4 linked regions of the Homo sapiens genome follow. The protein of the gene in region 1 interacts with the protein of each later gene in a biochemical or structural test. Each region holds a gene or a part of one and is shown in the gene's direction. Other genes may lie near its edges.

What was found.
Region 2: the proteins of MAP3K7 (region 1) and UBASH3A form a complex in vitro, tested with the Homo sapiens proteins (one study listed by BioGRID).
Region 3: of the proteins of MAP3K7 (region 1) and PPM1L, one has a biochemical effect on the other in vitro, tested with the Homo sapiens proteins (one study listed by BioGRID).
Region 4: the proteins of MAP3K7 (region 1) and TRIM31 form a complex in vitro, tested with the Homo sapiens proteins (2 studies listed by BioGRID, with this or other methods).

Annotation. Positions count from the first base shown.
Region 1 is NC_000006.12:90,542,050-90,549,085, reverse strand, and holds part of MAP3K7 (mitogen-activated protein kinase kinase kinase 7), read left to right. Parts: intron 1-908; coding exon 909-1,039; intron 1,040-1,698; coding exon 1,699-1,828; intron 1,829-4,453; coding exon 4,454-4,534; intron 4,535-7,036. UniProt on the Homo sapiens protein: Serine/threonine kinase which acts as an essential component of the MAP kinase signal transduction pathway. Plays an important role in the cascades of cellular responses evoked by changes in the environment.
Region 2 is NC_000021.9:42,427,866-42,434,901, forward strand, and holds part of UBASH3A (ubiquitin-associated and SH3 domain-containing protein A), read left to right. Parts: intron 1-4,237; coding exon 4,238-4,337; intron 4,338-6,966; coding exon 6,967-7,036. UniProt on the Homo sapiens protein: Interferes with CBL-mediated down-regulation and degradation of receptor-type tyrosine kinases. Promotes accumulation of activated target receptors, such as T-cell receptors, EGFR and PDGFRB, on the cell surface.
Region 3 is NC_000003.12:160,955,231-160,962,230, forward strand, and holds part of PPM1L (protein phosphatase 1L), read left to right. Parts: intron 1-6,505; coding exon 6,506-6,680; intron 6,681-7,000. UniProt on the Homo sapiens protein: Acts as a suppressor of the SAPK signaling pathways by associating with and dephosphorylating MAP3K7/TAK1 and MAP3K5, and by attenuating the association between MAP3K7/TAK1 and MAP2K4 or MAP2K6.
Region 4 is NC_000006.12:30,103,086-30,110,121, reverse strand, and holds part of TRIM31 (E3 ubiquitin-protein ligase TRIM31), read left to right. Parts: intron 1-1,073; coding exon 1,074-1,096; intron 1,097-1,934; coding exon of another isoform or gene 1,935-1,953; coding exon 1,954-2,069; intron 2,070-2,334; exon of another isoform or gene 2,335-2,459; intron 2,460-4,734; exon of another isoform or gene 4,735-4,879; coding exon 4,880-4,954; intron 4,955-5,954; coding exon 5,955-6,020; intron 6,021-6,332; coding exon 6,333-6,586; 3' UTR 6,587-6,876; coding exon of another isoform or gene 6,877-6,917; 3' UTR 6,918-7,036.

The DNA of each region.
Region 1 (7,036 bases):
CTCTTGCATCATCAGTTTTAGCTTTCTACTGGATCATTCCTAAAACATACGTAGTCTGTATTTGCATTCACTAGCTTCTCTTTTCCCCTTCTTTCTTGAGCTGACTCCATTCAGACGTATTATGCCAGTACTTCAGAATTGTTCTTGTCAAGGTCACTAGTTATCTCTACATCACTACATTTAAGGAATCATTTTCATTTCTCATCTTGACTCTCAGTAGCACTTGACCTAATTCATTACTTTCTCCTTCTTACAGACAGCACTTTCTTCAGTTGGCCTCCGAGATACCATACTAGCCTAGATTCCATCTTACATCTCTGGCCGTCTGTTCTCAGTTTTCTTTGCTGGTTATTCCTCATCTCCCCAACCTAGAAATGTTGGAGTGCCCAGGGCCTGCTCATTTGGCTTCTTCACTTATCTGTCTGCACTCATTTCCTTGGTAACCTCATTCATTATTATGGCCTTATATACCATCTGTTGGCTCATAATGTTTTCCATCTTATACCTGAACTCTATACTCATATATCCAACTATTTCCTTTACATCTACTAGAAACTCAAACTTAATATTTTCCAAACTGAGTTCCTGATACTTCCTTCAAACTCACTCTTCCTTTAGTCTTTCCGCATCTCAATTAATAGCCCTCAGTTCTTCTACTAGCTCAGGTTAAAAACCTTAAGTTATTCTTGACTATTAGAAGACTATTTAGGCATCTTGGTTCCTTTTTTGTGCTATCCTTAAGTTTCTCTTAAAATGGGTTTGTTTGGATATCTTCATTAGCTTGAAAAGTCTTATTTTATTTCTGTTCCTGCCTGGCTAGTTTATAAAAGAATGTAAGTTACATAATACCAAGTGAAGCATTTGTATTATTTCCAGCCATTAGTCATAAATGTTTCTGCTTTTCCTAGGCTCATTCATGGACATTGCTTCTACAAATACGAGTAACAAAAGTGACACTAATATGGAGCAAGTTCCTGCCACAAATGATACTATTAAGCGCTTAGAATCAAAATTGTTGAAAAATCAGGCAAAGCAACAGGTTTGTTATGTTATTACAAGTAAAACTGGTAACCTTACCAGTAGTCACAATATTATACTAACTGAAATTAATTATTTACCATCTTCTATTTTATAAATCCTGAATTTTCTTCCTGAAACATGCAAAAGAGCTTACAAATAGAGACACGTAATGAGATTCTCCTACCATTTATTACCAAATGGTTTTTCCTTCTAATGATTGCTACCTTTGCCAATTCTAAATCCCTATCTATAATAATCCCTAAATGTAATGGTTGATGGTTAAAAATGTAAAATGGGTATATTTTGGCTGCGCTGCCCAGTTAGAGGAGTTGTTCTAAGTCTATCATTTCATGCTGTTCAGATTTATTATATTTTTGCCATTGTTGATTTTTAAAAATATTTCAAGGAGTGAGTTTATTCATTTTGCCTGAGGCATTTAGGTTAACGAATAATTGGGGCTTTTAGCTCCCAGTTCTAGTGACTGCCTTTTCATAAAGACAGTATCTGCAGCTTGCTTTCCCTTACCCCTGTAGCTCCCTCTCGTACAAACTTCCCTCTCCTTTCAGAGCAGAACAGGATCTATCAGAATCCCATTTGCCATCTTCCTCCTTTTAGGTTGCCTAAGATTGCTAAATCTAAAGAACTTCAGTAATTCAGATTGACCTGTAATTTTAACAGAGTGAATCTGGACGTTTAAGCTTGGGAGCCTCCCGTGGGAGCAGTGTGGAGAGCTTGCCCCCAACCTCTGAGGGCAAGAGGATGAGTGCTGACATGTCTGAAATAGAAGCTAGGATCGCCGCAACCACAGGTAAAAAGGAACTACAAGTCTGAAGAGTGAAAATGTATATAAGCCTTTTTGGCCATGGTAGTTTCAGTTGTCAAAGGTTTTTTGTGTGTGTCTTATATTTTTTTTTAAATAGGAAGTAGGTTTACAATATATTTTTCTAAGTTACTAGCAATAGTTTATGCATTTATCTCAAATTCCAAATAAGGAAGGTATGACTTGTAAAATTATTTGGATGAGAAAGTATGCCTTCCTCATTTACAGATTTTATCAAATGTAATTCTTTCTGCTCAAACATGAGTTGAAAGTCTAAGTGAGAAATTGAAATTCTGCCAAAACCAGAATATTTTGGGGATTTTCAGTGATACTACTAGATTTTTGTGCTGAACTCAAATAATAGCAAATATTTTGTTTCAAATTTAACAGAAAAATGTATTCCAGATCCATGTATGATTTGACCTTCTATCTGCTTCTTCATTCCAGTGACAAAATAATAGCTAAGCTGGTTGTGGTTAATTTTTTTAATTGTAAAATAAAATATCATAATTTTATTAGATCTTGAAAAAGCTAGCATTTAAATTCCATTGTTCAGTTCTTAAAATTATTAATCATGGAAGAACTGGTCAGCACAAAAACAATTACATGTTTTGTTACTTAAGTAAACTGACAACCTAATTCTGTGACCAGGTTTCATTTTAGTAATGCTGGTTTAATTTGGACGTTTTTGGTTTTTTGCTGATTCTTTCCAGGGATCAGGGGGAGCTGATTTTAAAAGTAAACACGTTTCTGTTGTGGAAAATGTGGAAATGTAAACAAGCCAAAAAAACTTACATAATTACCCCACTCAGAGATAAACACTTAACATTTTTGTGTATTTACCCCATCTTTTAACTATGTATGTGTATAAATGTATATATTCATGTGTATTTGCATCTTTTTTAACTTAGCTAACCAATTTTTTAGGTCTTTTTTTCACTTATTTGGTTTTTTTCTAAATAGAATATTCTCATTGTGTGTGGAGCTCTTTTCAGAAAGAAGTTGTCAAGATGGACCATCATACTATACTTGTCTTCAACTAATCATGATCATTGATTTTATCAGCTACTATTAGAATCCATTAGATATAACAGAATATCCGAAATAACAGTGTCTATAACACATAAGCATTATTTTTCACATATAAACAAGTCTGGAGGTAGTGGGCTCTGTGATCTTGAAGTAACTGGTCTCCTATTTCTGTGCTGTAATCCCTACTGTATAGCTTCCATTCTCAAAGTTATCCTGTGCTCCAAAATGGCTGTTGAAGTTCCATTTCATCACTTCTACATTCCAGGCAATAGGAAGGAAGACATGGGGGCAGGGCAAATAGACATCCAAGTTCTTTGAAGGAACATTCCCAGATGCCTCTCTTAACAACATCCACACATCATTGGTCAAAGTAACATGGTCGAATGGCTACACGTAGCTCCAAGGGAAGAGGAGATCTGCCCTCTTTTATCTGATGACTTTTCTGTCCTAAATAAAATCAGAGTACTATTGCTAAAACAGAAGGGAAGAGTGGAAACTGGCAGAAGATAGCTGTGTCTGCCACAGATGGGTCTTCAGAAACTATCAAGTTGAGTAGAAGTCACCAGCCACTGACAAGCCCATGAGTCTCCATGAGTCACAAGTATTTCTTTGGAGCAGGGTTGTCTCACTGTAGTGTCAGATGAACCCTACTCACCGGGACATACCCTCATGCTTTGAGGAACCCTTTTCACTTCAGGGATGTTGTTCAGGATAGATCTGCCACATACTAATTGCTGTCTCAAAACTGAAAATTGTTATAATAATGGTTTCATGTCTTCGCTAGTATCATATTTCTAGTCAAGCACTGGTTTTTTATTATTATTTACAGAAATGACTTTGCTAGAAGGATAACCACACACATTAAAATTTTGCCTAAGTGTAGAACAAATGCTATTGTACATCCCTTGAGTTTTACACAATTTAAATTTTTTCATGAATTGTCTTACTTGGAAAGAGTCATACTTTCCAGCCTTTTGACAGACTTTGTGTTTACTGTGAATGTACCCTAAACTTTGGAAAATATAATAAATATTTGGTACTAGAAATATGTATAAGTATGACTACAAAAGCATATACATTTCACACTTTGATTCAATAATTATTATTTAATCATTGGATTTTACTTTATAGCACACTTCAAGAAACACCTAACTTGAACATGTATTCCTGTGTTTGTGTAATTAAAACAAATACGACAACTTACTTTTTAACGCCTTTCTTCCTCTCCTCCTTCGTTCCCCCACCCCCATCACAGATCAGTGATTTCACTTAGGTAGACTGTTTCTATGAATATATTTGAAATTTTGCTTCCTCATTACCCTGCAGCTTTGTCTCTGTTCTTTTTATTTTTTTCTGCTAATTAAAACCAGTGTGTAAAACATCTTGTATTTGGTAGTTGTTTGCTCTTTAATCTCGCCTTTTCTGAGCATGGATGAAAAGTTAGGTAGTTCTGCATGCCATTCTGCATGAAATGTTATTAACATGAACTATTTGAAAATGAGTCTATTTTTGTAGTTAATCATTTTCCGTGTTACTGTTTGTGGTTGTTTGCATGTATACTGTATATATGTGTTTTTGCAGCCTATTCCAAGCCTAAACGGGGCCACCGTAAAACTGCTTCATTTGGCAACATTCTGGATGTCCCTGAGATCGTCATATCAGGTATCATAGACCACCTGAGTTGGTCTAATAGCTGTGGAACCGGAATAATGATCCCTGGTACTTGTAAAATGCTTCTTGCTCCAATTTTTACAAGACATGAAAATGGATACCTTGCATGCAGTAATTAGGGAGACAGATTGAAAAACTACATTTATTCTGAAGCAGTCTTGAAAAGATACCTCTGATCTACAATAAGTGAGGATAAAATAGAAGAGAAAGTAAACCTTTTTGGAGAAGGGAGAACACCAACCCAGAATTCTACCAACTTCCTCTCTACTTTTAAGTGAGCACATGAGCTAAACCCAGACCTTTTTTGCACCCAACAGAAAGAGGAAACAACTAATTAAAATTTGTTATTTTCCTTGGCTCCTTTCCTTCCTCAGTTACTGCTTTTTGGGTCCCCTCTAGACTTTCTGTCCTAACCTCTTTCTGTTGGTAGCAAGTGAATGTGAAGTTGAGAGAAGAGAGTTGCTAAATAGCATTTTGCCTTAACCTGGAAAACAAAAAGTAAAGCTAAATGAGATGTGCTGTTTTGCAGGGTATCTTGCCAAAGAATCATGTAAAATAGTTGGTCAATTCTGATTTTTGTGTATTATCAGGAGAATCTCATAAATTACATGTTTTTATACCTAACTTACACATGGTACTTTAGTGTCTAAAATTGGTAAACTGCTTTATTTCTTATGGTGATCATTTCATAGAGGAATATGTTACCATTTTTAATAGAAACTTAAATGGCATATTGACCTTCAGTATTGATTAATGTATTATCAAAATTATCATTTATTTATCCCTTTAGGCTTTTCTCTACCTCTTTACCCAAAATCTTGATAAGGAAATACATATTTTCCACACACGTTCATGAGTGCGAGTTGGATGAATTCTTCAGCATGCTGTCCTTTGCCTGTGATTGTGTTTTTAGCAGTGTTGATAATTCTAGTTGAATACCTAATGGTTATTTTCTCCTCTACTAAACTGAAAACTATGTAAGGATAGAATCCATATCTTTGTGCATTATTTTGTTGTTGTTGCTTATTATTGATTGTATCAGCAGTTGCTGGCTCAGTGCTTCACATATTAAGCATATTAACATAGTGTTTAATAAATACATTTATTAAATAAATGAACAGACCTATTGAGCATCTCCCCTGGTGAGAAACTAGCATACAAAAATATGAATTATACTATTCTTAGGTGCCATTTTGTCTGTATAAAACTATCTTATATTAATTTTCCCCTGGTTATCAAAGTGGTTTCTTATTTTACAACATCATTACTATTGCTATTCAAAGAGTAGAGTTAACCCATTTTTCACATGGTAATTTTTATTTATTGAATCTGGACTGCTTCAGAAATTAACAAAGAGATCATTTTACATGGAGATCAGTTTACCTCCATGCGGAAAGGTACTGTGTATAAGGGACGTACTTTAAAGAGGTGGAAGCATTTAAACTTACATACCGCTGAACTGTGCTTCCCTTAAATGTTTGAGGGAATCAGGAAAATTTAGACAGATGGCAGTGTAATCTTATGACTAAGCATTAAGAATAAATTTATATATGGCAGCGTAGCCCACGCTATACAAGATAATGGGGGAGGGAAAAATAAGGAAAGAATAATAGTTTATAACTGTCAGGTACTACTGGCATCTAGTGGGCAGAGACCAGGGATGCTGCTAAACATCCTGATGTGTACCAGGCAGTCTTCTCCAACAAAGAATGATCCAGCCCAAAATGGCAGCAGTGCTGAGGCTGAAAACCCCTGATTAGATGTTCTTTGTGCCCTACAAAGTAGCTTAAAGTACATCTTATTTTACCTTTATACAATCTTACAACTAGGTTATCGGATGAAATTATAGCTGTTTAACAGACGAAGAACTTAGATCTGATGATGTTTAGTGGTTTTTCCAGAATCATATAGCCAGGACCCCAACCCAGATCTTCTGACTCCAAGTCACATCCATTTTTTGTTCTTTTGTTTAAGTCAGAGAAGCTAGAGTAATTTCTTCTTGCTTTCTCTTAGTGTTCACATTAAGGAGAGCTCTTCAGCCAGGGAGATCCTCTTTTATGACATTGGGCCTTTATGGAATCAGGTAACCTTAATTCTCTTAATTGCCAGAGCAGCAGTGCTATTCATATGAAAATATTATTCAGTAATACCTTTTATTAAATATTCTTTTTAGGCTTTTCCCCCCTCAGATATCAAACATTAACTTACTCAGGTGCACTTTCTTTAATAGAAGAATACAAGCTGTAGAATTGACACTAGTGGACATAAAAGCCAATCATGAATGTGCTCATAGGTAATGTTTTTAAATTAAATATAAAAATACCGCCCATCCTTTGGGAATATCTCAAATTTCCTACATGACATTTTAATTGTAAAGAAGGGTGATACTTAATTTCCAAAATTTCTTAATACTTTCTAGAAATTGTTTTGTTCTAAGTGGATTTCCCACAAGCTTTATGGTATTAGCAAATACTTCTTGATATATTCAAACTG
Region 2 (7,036 bases), on another chromosome or scaffold:
AGGTCAACGCTCACCCTCTGTTACGGATTGAATTGTGTGCCTCCAAAATTCCTATCTCGAAGTCCTAACCCCCAGTCTCACTGAATGTGATTGTATTTGTAGACAAGGCCTTTAAAGAGGTATTTAAGGTTAAATGAGGCAACACAGGTGATGCAATCTGATCCAATCTGACTGCTGCCCTTATAAGAAGAGGGGATGAGGAAACAGACACACAAGAGGGATGGCCCTGTGAGGACACAGGGAGGGGACACCACCGGCAAGCCCCAGAGAGAGGCCTCAAAAGGAACCAGCCCTGGCAACACCATCATCTCTGACCTCCAGCCTCCAGGACTGTGGGAGAGTAAACTTCTGCTGTGGAAGCTAAACAGTCAACCCACACGCAGCGTCCCTGTCGCCATTTGCACCTCCTGGCAGCTGGTGCAAATCAGCCCAAAGCTAAGTGGCCTTGGCAGGTCTTTGCAGCCTTGGTGGCTAGGTGAGGAGGCCTTTTCTTGAGAAATCAAGAATGTGTCTCTGAAGCTGGGTCCATGAGAAATGGCGATCAGCGTTCACCATGTGAGAAAGGCCCAGACTTGGGAGAGCCGAGACTCCCCAGGGCTGTGGCCTGGGGATTATTTAAAAAGCTTTAAATGTTTTTAATAAGGACTTTCAGCTATTTAAAAAGATTGAGCTAGTACCATGGATTCCAACAACCCTATCATCTGGAGTAAAACAGAGACCATTCTGTTTTACTCAGCCTAGTGACTTAAATGTTAATCTCATTTTTAAAAAATACCTTCACAGTGACATCTAAAATAACATTTGACCCAATACCTGGGTACTGTGGAGAAGTACCCAGGTATTGGGTAGGGGGAGAGCCTGGAATGGAAGTCTCTGCTCGTAGCTCAGCCTGTGTCTAAACCGTGCTTTCAATGGCTGAAAACAGAACATGCATCTGCCTGTGAACTGGCCCCCCTCACACGGTCTTCTCTATAGGGATTTCACCCCTTCCCTACAGTAAGAAAAGACAACTGGCCACAGGTCTGGTAGAATCATGGCCCCAGAGATGATGCCCTAATCCCGGGAACTTGTGCATGTGACCTTATTAGGAAAGAGAGTTTCTGCAGATGGGATTGAGTGGAGGGTCTTGAAATGAGGAAATGATCCTGGGTCATCCAGGAGGGCCCTAAACCCCATCACAAGTGTGCTGATGAGAGAAAAGCAGAGGGGATCTGATACAGCAGCAGAGGAGGCCATGCAGCCAGAGAGGCAGAGACTGGAGCAATGTGGCCACAAGCCAAGGAACACCTGGGGCCACCAGGAGCTGGAAGAAGCAAAGAATAAATTCTCCCCTAGAATGTCAGAGGGAGCATGGCCCTGCCAACACCTTGACTTTGGACTTCCAGCCTCCAGAGCTGTGAGAGAATAAATGTCTCTTGCTTGGCACCGCCCAGCCTGTTATGGCAGCCCCAGGACACCAATGCAGCACCTTCTGTCTAGAGAATTGGTGCAGCCCTGCCTCATTCCATAGATCCCAGGGGTCAGTCCATTCCACTCCCCACAGGGCTTTCTTTTGCTTTATCATCATATTCCTGTGGCAAAGCTCCACAGAAGAACATTTAAAATGCTCTGAGCTCTTCCAGGAAGAAAATACCCCAAATCCAAAACTTCAGCCCGCAAGTTGAAAACTTCAGGGACTTTGTTACTAGGCAGAATGAGTTTCCAAGAGCATGCATGCTTTGCAATCTACTTGCAGATCAGCTCTCTACAGCTCTCTAGGATGTTTTAATATTCATTCTGGGATAGGGGCGGTGGGTGCTGCCTCTTGGTGTCAGTGTAGGCAACCTCTGCATAACCACACTTCACATGCAAGAGAGCAAGACAGCAAGACAAACCTTCCCCTGAAGCTGTTCCCCAGGAGATGCATGTTTCTATCCTGAAACAAACAACTGAAGTTTTCCAATAAGGGAAAGCAATACTATTCACTTGGCCTTACCGTATATCCGTTTTGAAGACTCAGCCCAGTGACCCTAAGAAAGTGTTTGCATGGTGACTGCAAACGTTCTCACTGGCTCACCAATCCCATAGTTTATGCACCTACCAAATGTAGCCAGGGCCACCGAGAACTGTCTGGTCCTGATAAATTTCAGCAGCTGGAAATTCTGCATCGTCCGGGCCAGCGTGGACTTCACAAGGGATCCACAGGATCTGGCAGGAGCTGCCCGTGGTGCTGACCCCGAGAATGCTTTCAAGGCAGGTGAAATTGGCCCCCACCCTACTTTCTGGTGTCCCTTCCTTCCCAGTAGTTTCCAATCACTTCCCTAGGTACAGGGACACCACGGGGGACCACTCTTGCCAGAGCGAGTGGCCAGTTAGTGCAGACCCTTGAGACTGGATCACTGTTCACAGAAGAAAGTCCAGACAGGAATGATCAGCTGCACTGGCCAGGTGGAAAATGAGTCCCTTCCTCCCTGAGGGTGTTTGGATGTTAAAGCCATTTGCATTTTCCTCTCTAGGATTTGGAGGGAATCAGGGCGATGCTGGGGCTGGTGTATGAGGGTTTATGCAGACAAGGCTTACCTCTCCTCACCTCTCTTCCTTACCCTGCTCAGTAGGAAAACACACACAAGAGCTGCCCTCTCATTTTAGCCCAGAGAGAGCTGTGTGGCCAAGAGGGAGCAGGGCAGGGATAGTGCCTGTCTGAGCTGCCTCCTGCCCAGGGGTCCTCCCTACCCCGTCCATCCCTGGTCGCCTGGGCTCCAGGCAGGATTTGGTCCCCAGAAGGCCCCACAGCCCACCTCCCGTGGCAGGCCGTGTTCGCTCTGCCCCCACCATCTCTGTTAATGACTCATCTTTCCATGTTCATCCCTTGGCCCAGGGAGACCTGCAGCTCCCTAAAGCAGGGATGCTGTGGACTGCAGCTTCATGGACCAGCATGTGACATGCTCCCCCCTGCGGTGCCATGTCACAGGGAGGTTGAGGCATGAGTCCTGGGTGCCAGAGGGCAGCACCACTGGGCCTGTGTTGCTGCAGGGTTCCCCACCTCTTGCTCTGAAATGGACCCCCCTGGATAGCCTGGGCCTGGCTCTGGGGCTGGGAATGTAGGTGAAGGGCCGATGTCAGCTGGCACATTAGTGCCCTCCAGGGAAGCAGCCGAGCCTGGTGTCTCCCTCCAGGGTCCTGGTGCAGGGCTTATGCTCCACGCAGCTGTCCTGGTGGCCTCTAGCTGGCTCGGCCCCTAGCACTCTGCTCTCTGGTCCCAGGGGGGGCATCCTCAGCTCTCATTCACTCTCTTCATCTCATTTGCTGTGGGTTCCTCTCAAGGCCAGTCCCTCAACTTGATCAGCCCTGCACAGCATGGGGAGAAGGGTGGCCTAGCCCCTGAGGACAGAGCCCCCCACAACACCATCCCACACAGTGGAGGCCCCTCCCAAAGGGTAGCCAGCCTCGCTGCCCCAAGCATGACCTTTGGGCTACTTCCCCAAAGCACAGGCTCCCCAGAAAGAGGGCGGGCGTGAGCCCTGTAACTGCAAGGCTCCAAGGCCATCCTGCGGCTGCCTGAGGCTGGGGAGGAAGGTGCCAGAGAGCTGCTGTCCCTGGCTCGAAGCTGCTGGCCACCGCCAAGGCCAGTCTCATGCCGAGAAGAAGTAAATAAACTATAAAGTACTGTTTTCCTTTAGCATTCAGCCAAACAGAGAATGACCAGCTATGGGAAAACAGCAAGGGGATGGATGAGGGCTTCTCCCCTTGGTGCTCAGAAGCAGAATTCATACCTGGGAGCCATAAAAGGACGGCCCCTCAACAGGTCAACACCAGGGCAGTCCTGGAGGGTTTCTCAGAAGAAGTGTGCCAGCAAGAGAGGAGACTAGATATATAGATAGGTAATCTATACTATAACAATACATATTATAATATAGATAGGGATAATGTCCTAAGACGTCTCTATGGGAATGATAAGGACTTAGAAAAGACAGAAAAGTAGAAAAACGGATGTGTCATGATAGGGGCCAATCCTGTCTCTTTTCATTTTCTTGATGTTAGAATGCCCAGAAAATAAAACATTGGAAGAAATTGAAGAGATTGTCAATTTCATGTCCTCTTTCATTCTAATGATTTGGGCAAAATGGGCTGAGCTATTGACTAACGAAGGAAAAGATTCCCTCGCAGTTGCTGGGTGACTGGGAGAGCTGCCATTGGTGCAAGTCCAGTGAGTTGGATGTTAAACTGCATGTGCCTTGCTTCCTGCCCCACCCCCCAGGCTACCGTTGCAAGGAAGAGCGTGCTGGTGGTTCGCCACGGGGAGAGAGTGGATCAGATCTTCGGGAAGGCATGGCTGCAGCAATGCTCCACTCCTGATGGTAGGTCACACTCAGGCGGGTCTACGGACAGAAACACTGTAGATCTAACCAATGAGATCTCCTTCTTAATGACCTTACATGGCACCAGATCCCCTGAGGCACCATTCTGTAGAATGACCATGTGTAGACTGTATGTGTGGAAAACGTGCCTGCTACATCTTCCTCCAGGGGTGTTCCATGTATGCATTTGAGTGTCTGTGTTGGAACCTCTCCAACCTAATCTTAACTGATGTAATTTTTGGCTATGCTGCTTAACAGATGGACGTATTCTTGAACATGCCTCTTGCACACCCCAGCTTTTCTCCTCTGAATGCCAGGAAGTAAGAATAGTGCTTATAAATACACATACCCACAAGCCAACCTCTGTATTGATGATCAATGTCCACATCAATGCTAATCTCCTAATAGGAAGCCTGTAGTGTCACAATTTCTAAGCCATGACCCATTACATAAATTAAGGCATTGAATGTAGTGACAAAATCAATTCACAGTTGCTAGGTTAGCCGAACCCTTTTGGGATCCCCCTCCAGAAGCCCAGCAGACCCAAGAAAGTGGTAAATGAGTAGGGAAAACCATTGGCAGATGACAATCACACACCAGAAAAGATTCTGAGCAGATAACATCATGATCAAGCATATTTCCAAGAACTCACAGAGCTAATAATATGGTCACCTCTATAAAACAAGATCAAGTAAAGATACAAGAGCTTAAAGCAACAATAAGACAATAGGTGGCTATCAGGATGCATTAACAAACATATAAGAAACTTTTTTTCAATAAAACAGTTTTTTTAGCTATTGAATTACTGAAGCTATAGATTGAACTGACACACCTTGTCCATGGTGGGGAGAACCAATACAAAACAATCAACACCAAAAATAGTTATTGAACTTCATAGAAAAAGAAAAAATATTTGGTCATCTGGACAAAAGATCAAGTCACTTATAAGGGAAAATATTTTAAAGGCACTGGAAATCCCCATCTGAAAGGAAACTCCTGGTGGATCTTTTCCCAAGGTAGAGAGGCCCTTGATAAAGTGAAGAATTACATCTAGTTTGTCTGAATTTTGTATATTGCAGGGTTTAATAAATCACAAGGAGGTATAGCCACGTCCTCCCCCAAGGTGACCAACCTCAGGGAACACAAGGGAGATTTGGGGGGCTCTACTGGCCTCTCCCCAGCTCAGCTCACTTTTGGCCCAGGCACCCACATCCTCACAGGGCCCCTCACCTCACCCCATATTCCACACAGACTCTGCTCCCATCAGGACCTGACCTTGCCCCACATCCTTGTCCTCTCCTGAGCTCTGCCCTCTGCCCCCAGAGTGATCACAGCTGAAGTGTCAATGACAGCAAAATACCTAAATGGAGTGTCTTGACATTTTAGAGGGGGATCACAGATGCCTTTGAGAACACAATGAAATTGATGGACTTTCTCTCTGATTTTAAAACTGCCTTTCCCAAGAGCTAATGTTGGCATTGAATAAACACCTCTAAAATGCAGTGTTCAAACAAGAGTCTCTGCCCATGGAAATCCCAGGGAGGGAGTCTTCAGAAAACTCCTATATGGAAACTAAAATGCAGGCATGAAAAATTGCCCCCCGCTGACCCCTGCTGCCCCCCACTGCCCCCTGACTCTGGGTTTGTGCAAGGCTGTGGGCCAGGATGAAGGGGCCTGGCATATTCTGGGGTGCAAAGGGCAGGGCCTGCTATGTATGGCAGAGCAGGTCTCAGGAAGGTCAGTGTGGCTGCTGGAACCTCCTAATAACCAGGAGGCTTGGGGTCCCTTTGGAGAATGTGAAGGCAAACCAGAGTGCACTGGAGGGAGCAGTGTGTCGTGGTGTCCTGTGTGAGGATAATCAGTCATCCTGACGTGGTGACATGAGACCAGTGCCCCGACTCGTTGACCACTCCCTCTTGAGTCAGACTCTGGGCTATGGGTGTTACCTCACTGACACCTCGCAATCGCTACTCTTTCCCTGTTTTTTACTGATAAGAGAGATGAAGTCATTTATTTCTGGCTGCACAGTGAGGAGATGGTGATGCCAGGATTTGCTACCAGACTGTCAGATCTTAGAACTCAAGGTCAAACTCCACGTGAACCCTGGCACCGGGCAGCCTCTGGTGGGAGACAGTCCCAGTGAGCCCACTTCCAGCCTGGCTTCAAGCAATTGACTAAAGAATGCACAACACAGGCATCTCCAGCTCAAGCACTCTGTCCCCTGAGCAAGAAGGATACGTTTAAAGCTAGGGGGATGGATCATTGATGCCAACTTCAGATTCTTACCGAGTTACACTAAACTAGTCATAGAGACACTTTATCAGGTTCTTCATCAGGAAAATGTAAGAGTGAATCTTCATGGGGCATTTTGGGAGGACAAAGAGGGTTGCATAGTTCCTGGGGCTGAAACCTAAGTTGTCTGCATTTGAGAAAATGTTGTGTGCACAGCTGAGCAGCACTTTCTTCTCAAATTGAAGCCACGTTGCAGAGAATGTTCAGAAACAACACAGTTGACAATAATTTCAATAATAACATTGCTGTTAGAGTGGGTCTTGGTCTTGGGAGTTTTGTGGAACAAATCTGTACTAACTTGATGAAACTGAACGTCTGATGCTTATTTATACTTCAGGGAAATACTACAGGCCAGACCTGAATTTCCCCTGCAGTCTGCCAAGACGGAGTCGTGGGATCAAAGACTT
Region 3 (7,000 bases), on another chromosome or scaffold:
GATCTCTTGACCTCGTGATTACTGCCTGCCTCGGCCTCCCAAAGTGCTGTGATTACAGGTGTGAGCTACGGTGCCCAGCCTTCTTTTTTAAATTATTTTTTAAAATTGGTCTTTAAATTCTACCAGAATTATTTCCTGATTATTTTTCTGTGTTCCCTCCTATCTTAATTTCTCTCCCTAAAGGCTGTTTAGCACCTAACATAACTCATGCATTAAATAAATATATTAATTTATCTCGGGATTCATGCGTATTTTTGCATTACTTTGTAAAATGTGTTTTTCTAGTATTTCATGTGTGTTTTGTTTGCATATTAAAATTGCAGTTTCCTTTATGGTAAAGGCTTGTTTTCCCAACAGTTCAAGCCTAATATGTATTACTCAGCAGACAGTCAATAAATTAGAATTGGCTGGCTAACAAGTTTTCTTTTTTTTTTTTTTTTGAGACAGTCTCGCTCTGTCGCCCAGGTTGGAGTGCAGTGGTGCAATTTCGGCTCACTGCAAGCTCCGCCTCCTGGGTTCACGCCATTCTCCTGCCTCAGCCTCCCGAGTAGCTGGGACTACAGGTGCCCGCCACCACGTCCGGATAATTTTTTTTTTGTATTTTTAATAGAGACGGGGTTTCACCGTGTTAGCCAGGATGGTCTCCATCTCCTGACCTCATGATCCGCCCGCCTCAGCCTCCCAAAGTGCTGGGATTACAGGCGTGAGCCACCACGCTGGGCCGAGTTTTCTTTTTAAGATGAATTGTGAAACATTTAGCAGCTCTTGAAATATACTTTTGCACCACCCCACCTGAATTCTTTAATATGTATTAGTTCTTAAAGAATATACCATATAATAGTAAATAGTATTTTAGCCTAATGACCAGCATCAGCATTCTACCTACATTTCCAGAATTTAGGTTCTTAATCATTCTGCTTCTTTTCATTTATCCTTCTTACCCACTGAGTTCTTTTTATGGAGTTTACTGTAACCCTTTAATGTCTTCCAGACTAACGCTAGAATGGGTAATATAAATATATGTAAATTCTGTAAAAAGGCACATTCAGCACCTTTTATGCCCTGCCTTGTAAGTTTTTAGCTCATATTTTTACTCTAGCTGTTGCCGAAGTCATCATCTTTTCAGGTCTAACTGGAGGGAACCTGTGAACTTTTTTGCACTTTCTTCCCTAAGATTTCTCTTCAGCCATTTAGGATATGTCTGGCTAAACATAGAGCTGAAAGTCCAGGTGTAATTAACATCCTGCAAGGCAACCTTTAATTCAGGTGTACAGCTCTGATGTACATTGCACGTGATTCCTCAAAGGGTCCCTAGAAGAATCAGTCAACCCCATTGCCAAATGCAGAAATAAAGGCAAGAATGGAGAAGATCAAATGATTATGGAGAGGAAAGCATTAAATAAAGCCTCATACAGCTTTAAGTGTGAAACACATAATTTGCCATTTTGGCGTGTGAATTATGATTGGGTTTGAGCTGTTTACTTTTCTGAAATAATGGCATGAAAGAAAATTAAAGACCAAGAATAGTTCCATTTGCCAGTAGAAAACCAGACTTTTATTCTCTATCTGAAATTGTGAAAGGAAGATCTGTATGCAAGAAAGAATTAGGAACTGTCAAAACATTTTTTCCCAAGCTATCTGAAAGTACTTGATTTTTGCATAGTGTCAAAGTATTGAGCTTCTATGGTATAAAGCATTGAACCAGATGTGGGGGAACACAATAGTGTGTAAGATACAGTCCTTATTTCCACCAGTTGGAGGAGCTAAAGTACCTATACCTGTACAAATACAAAATAATTGGAAAGCTGTTGGATGCTCTTAGATGTTCAAGTTAGGTTAGGCAATACTAACAGTATATACATGGCATTTGAGCCAGACTTTGAAAGATATGAAGGATTGACTAAAACCAATAAGAGACCAGAGTATTTGGTTTTCTGTTCCTGTGTTACTTTGCTAAGGATAATGGCCTCCAGCTGCATCCATAAGCCTGCAAGGGACATGATCTCATTTTTTTATAGCTGCATAGTATTCCATGGTGAATGTGTACTACATTTTCTTAATCTAGTTTATCACTGATGGGCATTTAGGTTGATTCCATGTCTTTGCTATTGTGAATTGTGCTGCAATGAGCATATGCGAGCATGTGTCTTTATAATAAAATGATTTCTATTCCTTTGGGTATATACCCAGTAATGGGATTGCTGAGTCAAATGGTATTTCTGTCTTTAGGTCTTTGAGGAATCACCACACTGTCTTCCACAATGGCTGAACTAATTTACACTCCCACCAGCAGTGTAAAAGTCTTCCTTTTCCTCCACAACCTTGCTAGCATCTGTTATTATTTGACTTTTTTTTTTTTTTTTTTGAGACGGAGTGTCGCTCTGTCGCCCAGGCTGGAGTGCAGTGGTGCAATGGCGGCTCACTGCAAGCTCCGCCTCCCAGGTTCACCCATTCTCCTGCCTCGGCCTCCCAAGTAGCTGGGACTACAGGTGCCCGTCACCACGCCTGGCTAATTTTTTGTATTTTTAGTAGAGACGGGGTTTCACCATGTTAGCCAGGATGGTCTTGATCTCCTGACCTTGTGATCCGCCCGCCTCAGCCTCCTAAAGTGCTGGGATTACAGGCGTGAGCCACTGCGGCCGGCCTCTCGTTGTGTTTTAATTTGCATTTCTCTAATGATCAGTGATGTTGAGCTTTTTTTCATGATTGTTGGCTGCATGTATGTGTTCTTTTGAAAAGTATCTGTTCGTGTCCTTTGCCCACTTTTTTATGGGGTTGTCTTTTTCTTGTAAATTTGTTTAAATTCCTTATAGACGTTGAATATTAGACCTTTGTCAGGTGCAGAATTTTCAAAAATGTTCTCCAGTTCTGTAGGTTGTCTGTTTACTCTGATGATGGTTTCTTTTGCTGTGCAGAAGCTCTTTAGATTAATTAGATCCTATTTGTCAATTTTTGCTTTTTTTGCAATTGCTTTTGGTGTCTTCAGCATGAAATCTTTGGCCATGCCTATGTCCTGAATGGTGTTGCCTAGGTTATCTTCCAGGGTTTTTATAGTTTTGAGTTTTACATTAAAGTCTTTAATCCATCTCGAGTTAATTTTTGTATATTGTGTAAGGAAGGGGTCCAGTTTCAATCTTCTGCATATGGCTAGCCAGGAATCCCATGGTGTGCTTTCAATAATATAGAGTACATCAATATTTGTAAAATGTGAATTATGGAACTATTTCCTGTACCTCATAGGCATTTCAAGGAAAAAAATTAATGACAGATATTACACTGAGTAACAAGGTAGTGTGAGTTTAAAAACAGTTATTGTGCAGTGTGTCTCTTCATTTTCCAGTGTCAGGGAAAAAATGTTATTAAATTTTACAATTATATATGTTGCACAAATGTGCTGAGTCCATTTACATTTTATGGAATAATTTCATTTGTTCTGCACTAGCTGGCTGGCAGAGAAATTGAACAATGTTTGGTGATGTTAAAGTTGTAATTTTGTCAGCAACAGAGTTAGGAAATATAAATATAAATCTGGAACTAAAACGTGTTGTGTTACCTTTGGCTACTCTAGGGGATAAAATATAACTTTTCACCACCACTTCCCAGTGGACTTTTCCTGGGAAGTCAGTTGTCATTGTTCTGGCAAGTTTCTTTTCATCCTAAATTTTGTTATCATTTAAAGAGAAAATCATGAAGGTTATAAAGAAATCCATTTTAGGGTATCTACCCAAAGGAAAATAAGTTATTATATAAAAAAGACACGTGCATGTGCATGTGTATAGCAGCACAATTCACAATTGCAAAAATGTGGAACCAACCTAAATGCCCACCAACCAACAAGTGGATAAAGAAAATGTGTTGTATATACACCATGGTATGCTACTCAGCCATAAAACAGAATGAAATAATGGCATTTGCAGCAATTTAGATGGCGTTGGAGACCGTTGTTCTATGTGAAGTAACTCAGAAATGGAAAACCAAATATCATAAATTCTCACTTATAAGCGAGAGCTAAGCTATGAGGATGCAAAGGCATAAGAATGATATAATGGACTTTGGGGACATAAGGGGGAGGGTGGGAAGGGGATGAGGGATAAAAGACTAAATATTGGGTACAGTGTACACTGCTCCAGTGATGGGTGCACCAAAATCTCAGAAATCACCACTAAAGAACTTACTTATATAACCAAAAACCACCTGTTCCCCAAAAACTACTGAAATAAAATTTTTAAAAACCAAATACACTTTAAAGACAATTTTAAAAAATTACAATAGTAAGAACATGGAAACAATACAAAAATGTGGAATGTAGAAAGTATTGTCTGTGCGTGGTTGCTCACGCCTGTAATCTCAGCTTTTTCGGAGGCTGAGGCGGGTGCATCACCTGAGGTCAGGAGTTCAAGACCAGCCTGGCCAACATGGTAAAACCCCGTCTCTACTAATAATACAAAAAAAATTAGCCGGGCATGGTGGCAGGCACTTGTAGTCCTAGCTACTCAGGAGGCTGAGGCAGGAGAATCGTTTGAACCCAGGAGGTGGAGGTTGCAGTGAGCCGAGATCATGCCATTGCACTCCAGCCTGGGCAACAAGAGTGAAACTCAGTCTCAAAAAAATAAAAATAAAAAAATAAAGTGTCTTCCACAGTTGGAGTATATTCTTTCATACCTTCTCCTATGCCTATATGATAATGCTAAATACACTATATATATATGTGTTGCTTAATTATGCTCATATATATGTATATATATGTTGTAGGATATACTGTACCTGATATTCTGTGACTTTGATTTTTAACCTCAACAATATATTATGGTATTCTTCCTGGTCAGTACATATAGTCCTATCTCATTTTTTCCAAAGGCTATAGAGGATACTACTCTATAAATGAAAAAAACTGAACCTCTGTTGATTAGCGTGTATCATATATATATATATATCAGTATGTATGTTTAATGCATACTTATTTTAAGTTGTACAATTAATAGCTGTACAGAATTTTAAAAACTGATACATTGTAACTTTACATATTTATGAGGTACAGTTTGATGTTTCAATACATGTATATCTTATATAGTGTTCAAATCAAGGTAGTTAGCATATCCCTTACCTCATTCATTTATAATTTAGTTATGTTGGGAACATTCAAAAACCTTTATTCTAGCTATTTTGTAATATACGACACCTTACTGATAACCATAGTCACCCTACTGTGCAACAGAACACTATGGGTTTTTCTTTTTTCTATGTAGATGTGTCTTTGCCTTATTCTAAGCAAAGATTGCCCCAGATACCATCTTTTTGTTTGTTTGTTTGTTCGTTTTTTAGCAGTTTTGTGTGTGTGTGTGTGTGTGTGTGTGTGTGTGTGTGTGTGTGTGAAGTTTTATACTGGTTATGAATATAATTTTGAACAATATATGGTGGACTTCATTGATTGATTTATTAACCTTAGACACTATGTGAGTAAAGCAGGACTGCACTGCAAGGAGATGCTAAACTTTTGACATTCCTGAGAGAGAAGTTTTATAAATTTCAGAATTCCCCTGATTTATGCATGCCTCTCTGTCACTTAATTATGCTCATAAAATTCTGCTTAACTAGCAATGGGATTCTCAACTTGGAGAGAAAAGAGTATGCTACCACTGCAGCCTACCAGAAGAACATATCAGAATCTTTGGGAAAATCTTTTCAAAATATGCATATCTTCCTTCCTACCCCCATGTGGAACGTGCTTACCTGATTGAAAATCACTGCATGTAATTAGTTGTTACTAATTGGAATGTAACTATTTGGGAGTGTGTTGTACAGATAGTGTAAAAACAAAAAACAAACAGCAACAACAACAACAACAAACTTGTCAAAGTAAGAATTATATATATGTAAGCTTTAAGGCATTTAAGTGGTGAAGAGGTTTGGTTTTGTTTGTTTGTTTGTTTGTTTGTTTGTTTTGCCCCAGGTTAAGGGGCATTGTCTTAAATCTCCTCATTTTCTGTTTATCCCATTATTTCATTATCAGCCCTAGCAGAGGACTCTCCTTTATAAAATTCACTTTACAAGAGTTCTTATGTAAACATTAATGAGTAGAGACTAATAAAACAAAGTAGGGATGTGGATGCCGTAGCATGGATGGGGTCATTGCTGAGATGAGTGACTGTCTTCTGCATTGTAGACAAGGGCAAGTCAAATTTGTATCCAGCAAAATCACTGTCAGGGGCCTTCAGTTCACTATAATAGTTGAAACTCTGAGCACTAAATCTGCGAATATCTAACCAAGTCTATCATCTTTTATACCTTTAAACCTAGTAGAAAACTCTTAGAGGTCTGTGATTCTATTTGAAGATCACCTTACTGGGTCCAGTGGATACTAAAAATGACGATGACAAGGACATGCTTGTCTGGAGGGTTGGTTTCACAGTGCTTTGAGCTTTCTCTATAGCACCTGAGGGTAAGTAAAAAGTCTAAGGGGAGAATTTCTAATGGAGTTCTCTCTCTCTGACTGTTTTATCTGCAGACTGCAGCTGAATATGTAAAATCTCGACTCCCAGAGGCCCTTAAACAGCATCTTCAGGACTACGAGAAAGACAAAGAAAATAGTGTATTATCTTACCAGACCATCCTTGAACAGCAGATTTTGTCAATTGACCGAGAAATGCTAGAAAAATTGACTGTATCCTATGATGAAGCAGGTATGTTTGTTTTTAAAACACACATTTTTTTTCCTTGCAAAAAAAATTCATTATAAACCTTGATTAAACTTGGTAAAAGGTTAAGGGCAAACTAGATTCAAAGTTATGTAACATGGACTAATAGTAAGTTTCTTCTCTGCAGTTTTAGTCTCAAGATGGTCAGAAGATTCCTAAAAATGGATCTTAAATATCAAATGCCTTTAAAATTTTGCTGTTTTTTATTGGGATTTTTTTGGCCTTTTATTAACTGGGTACTCCTAAAGTGTTATTTCAACTTTGGATAGCAACTGAAAACTTTTACATCCGAGAATCCAAGAAAT
Region 4 (7,036 bases), about 60 Mb from region 1:
ATATTATCCTTTCAGCCTGTAATGAATATTTTAAAAGTATTAATGAGATATTTCACATTCTGGGTTTTTGGTGGTTTTTTTTTTTTTTTTTTTTACACTGAGTCTTTGAAATTGTGTGTATATTTTTCACTTTGGCACATCTCAATTCAGATGCTAAATTGTCAATTGTTAAAGTAAAATATAGTCTTACCAAATCAATAAAGTTGTGTTTAATGGAAAAAGTACTTTACCCTTCTTCTATTTATTTTATTTTATTTTTTGAGATGGAATCTTGCTCTGTTGCCCAGGCTGGAGTACAGTGGCGCGATTTTGGCGCACTACAACTTCCGCCTCCTAGGCCCAAGTCCCAAGTAGCTGGGATTACAGGTCCCCACCACCACGCCCAGCTAATTTTTGTATTCTTAGCAGACACGGGGTTTTACCATGTTGGCCAGGATGGTCTCGAACTCCTGACCTCAAGTGATCTGCCCACCTCAGCCTCCCAAAGTGCTGGGATTACAGGCGTGAACCACCGTGCCTGGCCTCTATTTTTAATTTAAATTTGAATTAGTAAAAATGAAATTAAAAATTCAGTTCTTTGTCACACTAGCCACAATTTCCAATGTTCAGTAGCCACATGTGGTTGGTGGCTACCATATTGGACAGTGCAAGTCTAGCTGGTGCTTAAAATAAGCTGAGATGATTCCTCCTCAAGTCATCTATTCTCCCACAGGTTCAAAAACCTATTTATTTATTTTAAGAAAGATCATGCAAAGCCATTCTAGCCTTTCTCCTGCCCTGGCTAGCAGGCTCCCTTGTTCAGTCTCAGAGCCAAATTCATCTTCTAAATCTCACTCTTCTCTTCTTCACTCAGTTCTTCTTGAGGTCAAAACACTTTTCTGCTTACTGGCAGAGCAGTGCTTCTTGGAGAAGCCCTTCGTGGTGGGGAGAGGGGAGGAGGATGGGGTAAGAGAGACTTGGAGGGGTTCTTACTCCTCCTGCTCTGCCCCACACCCAGCAGGCTCTGTATCTCCTCCTTGGCTCCTGGGAATCAGCCAAGTGCTGAGGCTGTGCTGTTTCTCTTTCTCTTCTAGGATATCAAAGTCGTCTTGTGCAGGTATGATGGGCCACCCCAAATGTATTTTGCCTACTGATTCATCCACACACAATTCTCAGCGTATATCCAAATGCAGTCAACATTCCTCTCTCAGAAATACCCACCCACCTCTAACTCTGCATTCATACATTTAGGCTGCAGCCGGGGAATGCCTATGCCAACCATATTAGCACGTGGTTGGTTGTTAAAGAAACCAGCTGTTTTCTCAGCCTTCCTCCTTCTTCAGCACAGATTCTACTATTTCCTGAATGCCCCCTTGCTCAACTGAATAGCTCCTGGGTCCCCTACTCTGTCTCCCTGACCCTGTTTTTTTCCCTCCTCTCTGTCTCCATCTCCCATCTTCATTTCCATATCTCCCTATGCCCTACCTCACTCCCGCCCCATATCCCTAGCCCTGACTTTCTGACTCCCAGCTCACTATCCCTTAACCGCCAGGTCTTCTTTTTTTTTTTTTTTTTTTTTTTTTGAGATGGAGCTTTGCTCTTGTTGCTCAGGCTGGAGTGCAGTGGTGCAATCTCAGCTCACTGCAACCTTTGTCTCCCAGGTTCAAGTGATTCTCCTGCCTCAGCCTCCCAAGTAGCTGAGACTACAGGCGCTTGCCACCAAGCCTGGCTAATTTTCATATTTTTAGTAGAGACCAGGTTTTACCATGTTGGCCAGGCTAGTCTTGAACTCCTGACCTCAGGTGATCCACCCGCCTCAGCCTCCCAAAGTGCTGGGATTACAGGTGTGAGCCACTGCTCTCAGTTCTACCCCCAGGTCTTCATCCCCTCATTTCTCAACCGCGTATCTCAGATCCTCCTTCTCCCACACCTCATCCCCTGATCTCACCAACCAGCTCAACCACATCTTCCTAGAAGTGAAGAGTTTCAGTTTCTCAACCCAACCCCTGTTCCTCTGGAACTGGAGAAAAAACTCAGTGAAGCAAAATCAAGACATGACTCCATCACAGGGAGCCTAAAAAAATTCAAAGGTAAGGAAGAGGCTGTATTTTCTCTATTCACCTACTTCCAGGAGATTCTCTCCCTGCTCACTCCACTGAAATGGAACTGTGACTCATACATGCCAACAATCCCTGGGCCCTTCTAGTGCCAGGCTTCTGGCTGAGTACTTTCCACGCATCAGTATGCCTCCTCCCAGGCATTTCTTATATTCTGTCTTTGTGATATGTTATTTATCTGCCTCCCTGACTCCTGCGAGAGCCATAGAGGGCCTGGACCTATTCCCCATGTGGACACCTGGCCTAGAGCAGTGGCTGTTGGGAAGTTGGTGATGAGTTGTCTGGTGGACCAGAGATGGCCTCAGGCAGGGACTGTCATCTCTGACTTCTCCTTCTCTGGTGCACACTGGTGTCTCCTCCTGCCTACAGAAGAAGAGAAAATAAATTCAAAATCAGTGACATTCTGGGGAGAAACCTCTTCCAGCCTTACAGGGAAACAGAAATCAGCAGAACAGTAGTGGATGACTTGGGTTTTAGATGTTCGCCAGATATTTTTCATAAACCTTTCTGTGTTTGCAACTAGGAAGAAGGGTTAGTATTTGTAAGGACTCCCCTTAATGTGAAGACTGTGTTGGTCTAAGGTGGGCATAAAGACAGCTAGATGGAATCTTCTGAAATTATCACCTGGAGTTCCACACCCACCTCCCCCACCCCAACCCCCAGCCCCCCATACACAAACACTTCCCCTTGGGACTACGGAAAAGGAGGACCAGGGCAATGCCCCAAGATCTCCACCCATTCAGCCGGGAATCTCCACTCGGCAGACATAAACAGGAAAGCATGTTTTGTTTTATTCTTAATTTTGTTGTCTGAGCTTTTCTTTTGTCCACTAACTGCTCTGCTTTGTCTAGCTCCTCCCACCCCACTGGGCATGATCTCAGCCGATCTAGCAACTTTATTTATTTGTTTATTTATTTATTTATTTTTGATGGAGTTTTGCTCTTATTGCCCAGGATAGAGTGCAGTGGCGCAATCTCGGCTCACTGCAACCTCCGCCTTCTGGTTTCAAGCGATTCTCCTGCCTCAGCTTCCCAAGTCGCTGGTGTTACAGGCGCACACCACCATGCCCAGCTAGTTTTTTGTATTTTTAGTAGAGACGGGGTTTCACCAGGTTGGTCAAGCTGGTCTCGAACTGCTGACTTGTGATCCACCCGCCTCAGCCTCCCAAAGTGCTGGGATTACAGGCGTGAGCCACCACGTCCAGCCCGATCCAGCACCTTTCTAGGCTCTTCAGGTCAAGAATAGTTTGGTTCTAGTTTGGAATTTCAATAAAGGAGCCCAGCCCTTTCCACTTCATCAGGTTTGGAGTTGGGGAGACTGGTGTGCTCTACTCTGTATCCCCCTTTTCTTTCCCTCTTTCACATACACAAACTCACACACACACAGTCCCCCAACTCCCACCTGGCCCTATTTCCTTCTTTTTTTTTTCTCTTATTTTTATTTTATTTTTACCCCAAAGAAGAAGGCACAATGGCCACCTGGCCCTATTAAAGCCTAGGAAATACAGGAGGTGGTAGGGAGTCTACTTATACCACAGGTCCAATCTCCACAGTTCTTATTATGAGGGTTGGTTCTCCCTGCTCGGGGTGACTGGGTCTGGAACACGTACGTGGAGAAGGGTGTGGCTGGGCCCTGAAGCCGCTAAAGGCCCTTGTAGGTGAAGTGCTCCCAGGCAGTGTTTCCTATGCTCTAGGTTTGCAGACCCCTCCTAAGAGGGCCCCCGCGTCTCCCCTGAGCAGTCCCCATGACTGGGCTGGTGGCTCTCAGGGAAGCTACCCACGCTTGTCCCACTACCTAGCCCCAGGCTGTCTTGTGCTGTCTTGGGGCTGCAAGACACTGGGGGAAGGGTGCTGGGGCCAGAAGTAGCTCCCCATCTAGGGGCTCCACCCTATAGTTCTCCACTCAGTCCAGCACCCCTACAGGAAATCTAGGCCAGGAATGGGCCATTGTCCCCAGCTTCTGGGCTCATCCTCTACCTGCAAAAGGAGTCTCTTCTGGCAGGGGTGAACTGGGAGATGAAGGCACTCGGCCTCCCCTTGCAGGAGCTCTGTCTTCGTTCCCCCTCTCAAGCCCTCTTTCATGGGAAAGAGGGCAGGACTGCCATCCAGGCTTTAGGAGAGTGGGGCCCCCCCTTACCCCACCTGGCTCCTGGGTGGTTAGCCCTACAGTAGGCCTTCTGAAGCTAAAGGGTGAAGCCTCAAGGCACTCTTTGTCCTGAGCACCTACCTTTGTCAGGCAGTGAGAAAGGGGCTAGCTCTGCACTGTCCAATTTAGTAGCTGCTAGCCACATGTGCTGACAGGCACTTGAAATGTAGCTAGTCCAAATTTAAACATGCTATATGTGAAGAATCATTAATTTCACAAGATTGAGTGTAAAAAGAGACTGTAAAAGATAGCAATAATTTTTATAATACATGTTGAAATAACATTTTGAGAATATTGAGTTAAATAAAATATATAATTAAAGTTAATTTTACTAGTTTCTTTCTACTTTTTAAATGTGACTACTAGAAAATTTAAAAATATATAAGTGGCTCACATTCGTGACTCAGATTACATTCATCATTCATACTGGACAGTGCTGGGCTAGGCAGTCACCACAGGAAATCAGAAAGGGCATCTCTCAAGGGTTGCATACCTTCCTGGTCCAATAAGAATATGAGAGTCAAATGCAGCTTCTACTTCTCCCAGGCATTTCAAATTAGTGCCTTGCTGTGTGATAGTGAGTTCTTTGCTCAACCCCTCTGGACTCTCACCATTTCATCCCATTCTTTATTCCCCAGACCAACTCCAGGCTGATAGGAAAAAAGATGAAAACAGATTCTTCAAAAGCATGAATAAAAATGACATGAAGAGCTGTAAGTGAGAAATGATGGTTGGTTGCTTCTGCCATTTGGGGAAAGTGAGAAAAGGGGAAGAATTGTGTCTCTATGATTACATGAAGGCCAGATATAAGTGAATGCCGATTCCTCAGCCAATTGAGAGAACAGGCATATGGTTGTTTTATTATTTTAAACTCAGGTAACTCACAAAACAGTCACTAATCCCAAACTTTGAAGTATTCAGAAGTAATAGAAAATTACAAATGTATTTCTTCACTCCTAGAGACAGGGAGGAAAAAGTGGGACAAGAAGGAGGCAGCTCCACCTCTGTAGTATTTGCTGCCCCTACAGGGCAGCAGGTTTCGAGGCAAACTCCTCTGGGTGTGAGGTCAGTACAGCTCAGGGGATGGAGACCCACTGTAATAACAGCCTGTGCTAAAGTCATTAGATATGGTTCTGCCACCTAAGACAATAACAGTAGAAGTACCATTTCTTAAAGGACCACTATGTGCGCATCTAATATTTCAAAACCCCACAACTATCCTCCAAGATAGGTGTTATTATCTGCAACTTACAGTGAGGTCCATGTAGCTTCCGGGAGGGGAGGTAAGTTACCCAGGTCATATGATCATTAAGTGAAAGAGAGAGAATTAGAACTCCTTTCTCCAAAGCCAGAAACTACAGAATGCATTCCAAAGCCAGAGAGCAGGATTTAGGGATCCTATTCCACCAGCATTTCTCCACAAAAGGAGCTACCGGTGTTTAGAAAGGCCATCTTTGTTATGCTCCATGACTTTTGCCCTGTTAAATGCTTAGTATCCCAGGCCCCAGAAAGCCCTATAAGCCAGTAGAGAACCACACTCTTGTTGTCACTGAGACAACCTGAAAGGTTTCCACACTTCCCCCTGGGTGGGGAATGGGTCCCACTGAGAACCATTGACTGTTCTGATTGATGATGGCAGGGTGCTTGTTTTTGTTTTTAATTTGCAGCTTCTGGTTATCAAGACCAAATAGGTTTTCTCTCCCCAATTTTTAGGGGGCTTGTTACAGAAAAATAATCATAAAATGAACAAAACCTCAGAGCCCGGGTCATCTTCTGCAGGTAAGAGTCCTGTCTCTGAATACTAAGGGACCTCTAAGTCTACAGGTGGTCAAAATGCTGTATCCACCCAATTCCACTAAATGGAATAAATGAATAAATGAATGAATTCATTTATTCCATTTCCTCAGTTCCTCCCCAAATTACACCTCTGCCAGGAAACAGAGGGCGCTCCGACTTGTTCAGGTGTACTTTCTTGAGTTTCACCTCCATCCCTCCTGCTGTATGTAGAGCTCAGCTGTGCTGTCTGGCAATGGAGGATTGCTGCCGAGGTGCTCCCGCTGACCTCTTTTCTCCTTTCCTTCTCCCGCAAAGGCGGCAGAACTACATCGGGGCCACCAAATCACCACTCTTCAGCCCCATCCCACTCCCTGTTTCGGGCCTCGTCTGCTGGGAAAGTCACTTTTCCAGTATGTCTCCTGGCCTCTTATGATGAGATTTCTGGTCAAGGAGCGAGCTCTCAGGATACGAAGACATTTGACGTTGCGCTGTCCGAGGAGCTCCATGCGGCACTGAGTGAGTGGCTGACAGCGATCCGGGCTTGGTTTTGTGAGGTTCCTTCAAGCTAAGCCAGCTCAGAGAACACGGGGAGCGGTGGTGCTACACGGACTTCGGAGCATAGAGTGGCGCTGAGTGAGTGGCTGAGACCGACCACGGTTCTTGACTTAGTGGAATTGGGTCGAAGGAGTGGAGAATGGGAGGGCTCGGGCTACTGAGAGTGGAGATGGGGGCGGGGGTGGTGGTGAAGAGAGTTGGAGAAGGAATGGACGAATTCTTGAGCAAAAGGAGGGGAAGAGACAATCTCCAGCCACCCGCCCCACGCTTGACTTCTTATCACTTTGGCTGTGGTGCCGCCTAGTGGAAAAAGGAAGTCCCTGCAGCAGTCCCCGCACTCTTTAAGCAGCTGTTTACCGAAGGCACCAGTTCAGCCAGGAGTGAAATCCGGAGAGGAGCAACGCCAGCCTGGGTCACAGTCCATCAAACCCCATGAGCCCGACCACTCTCGCTCTTCCTTACAT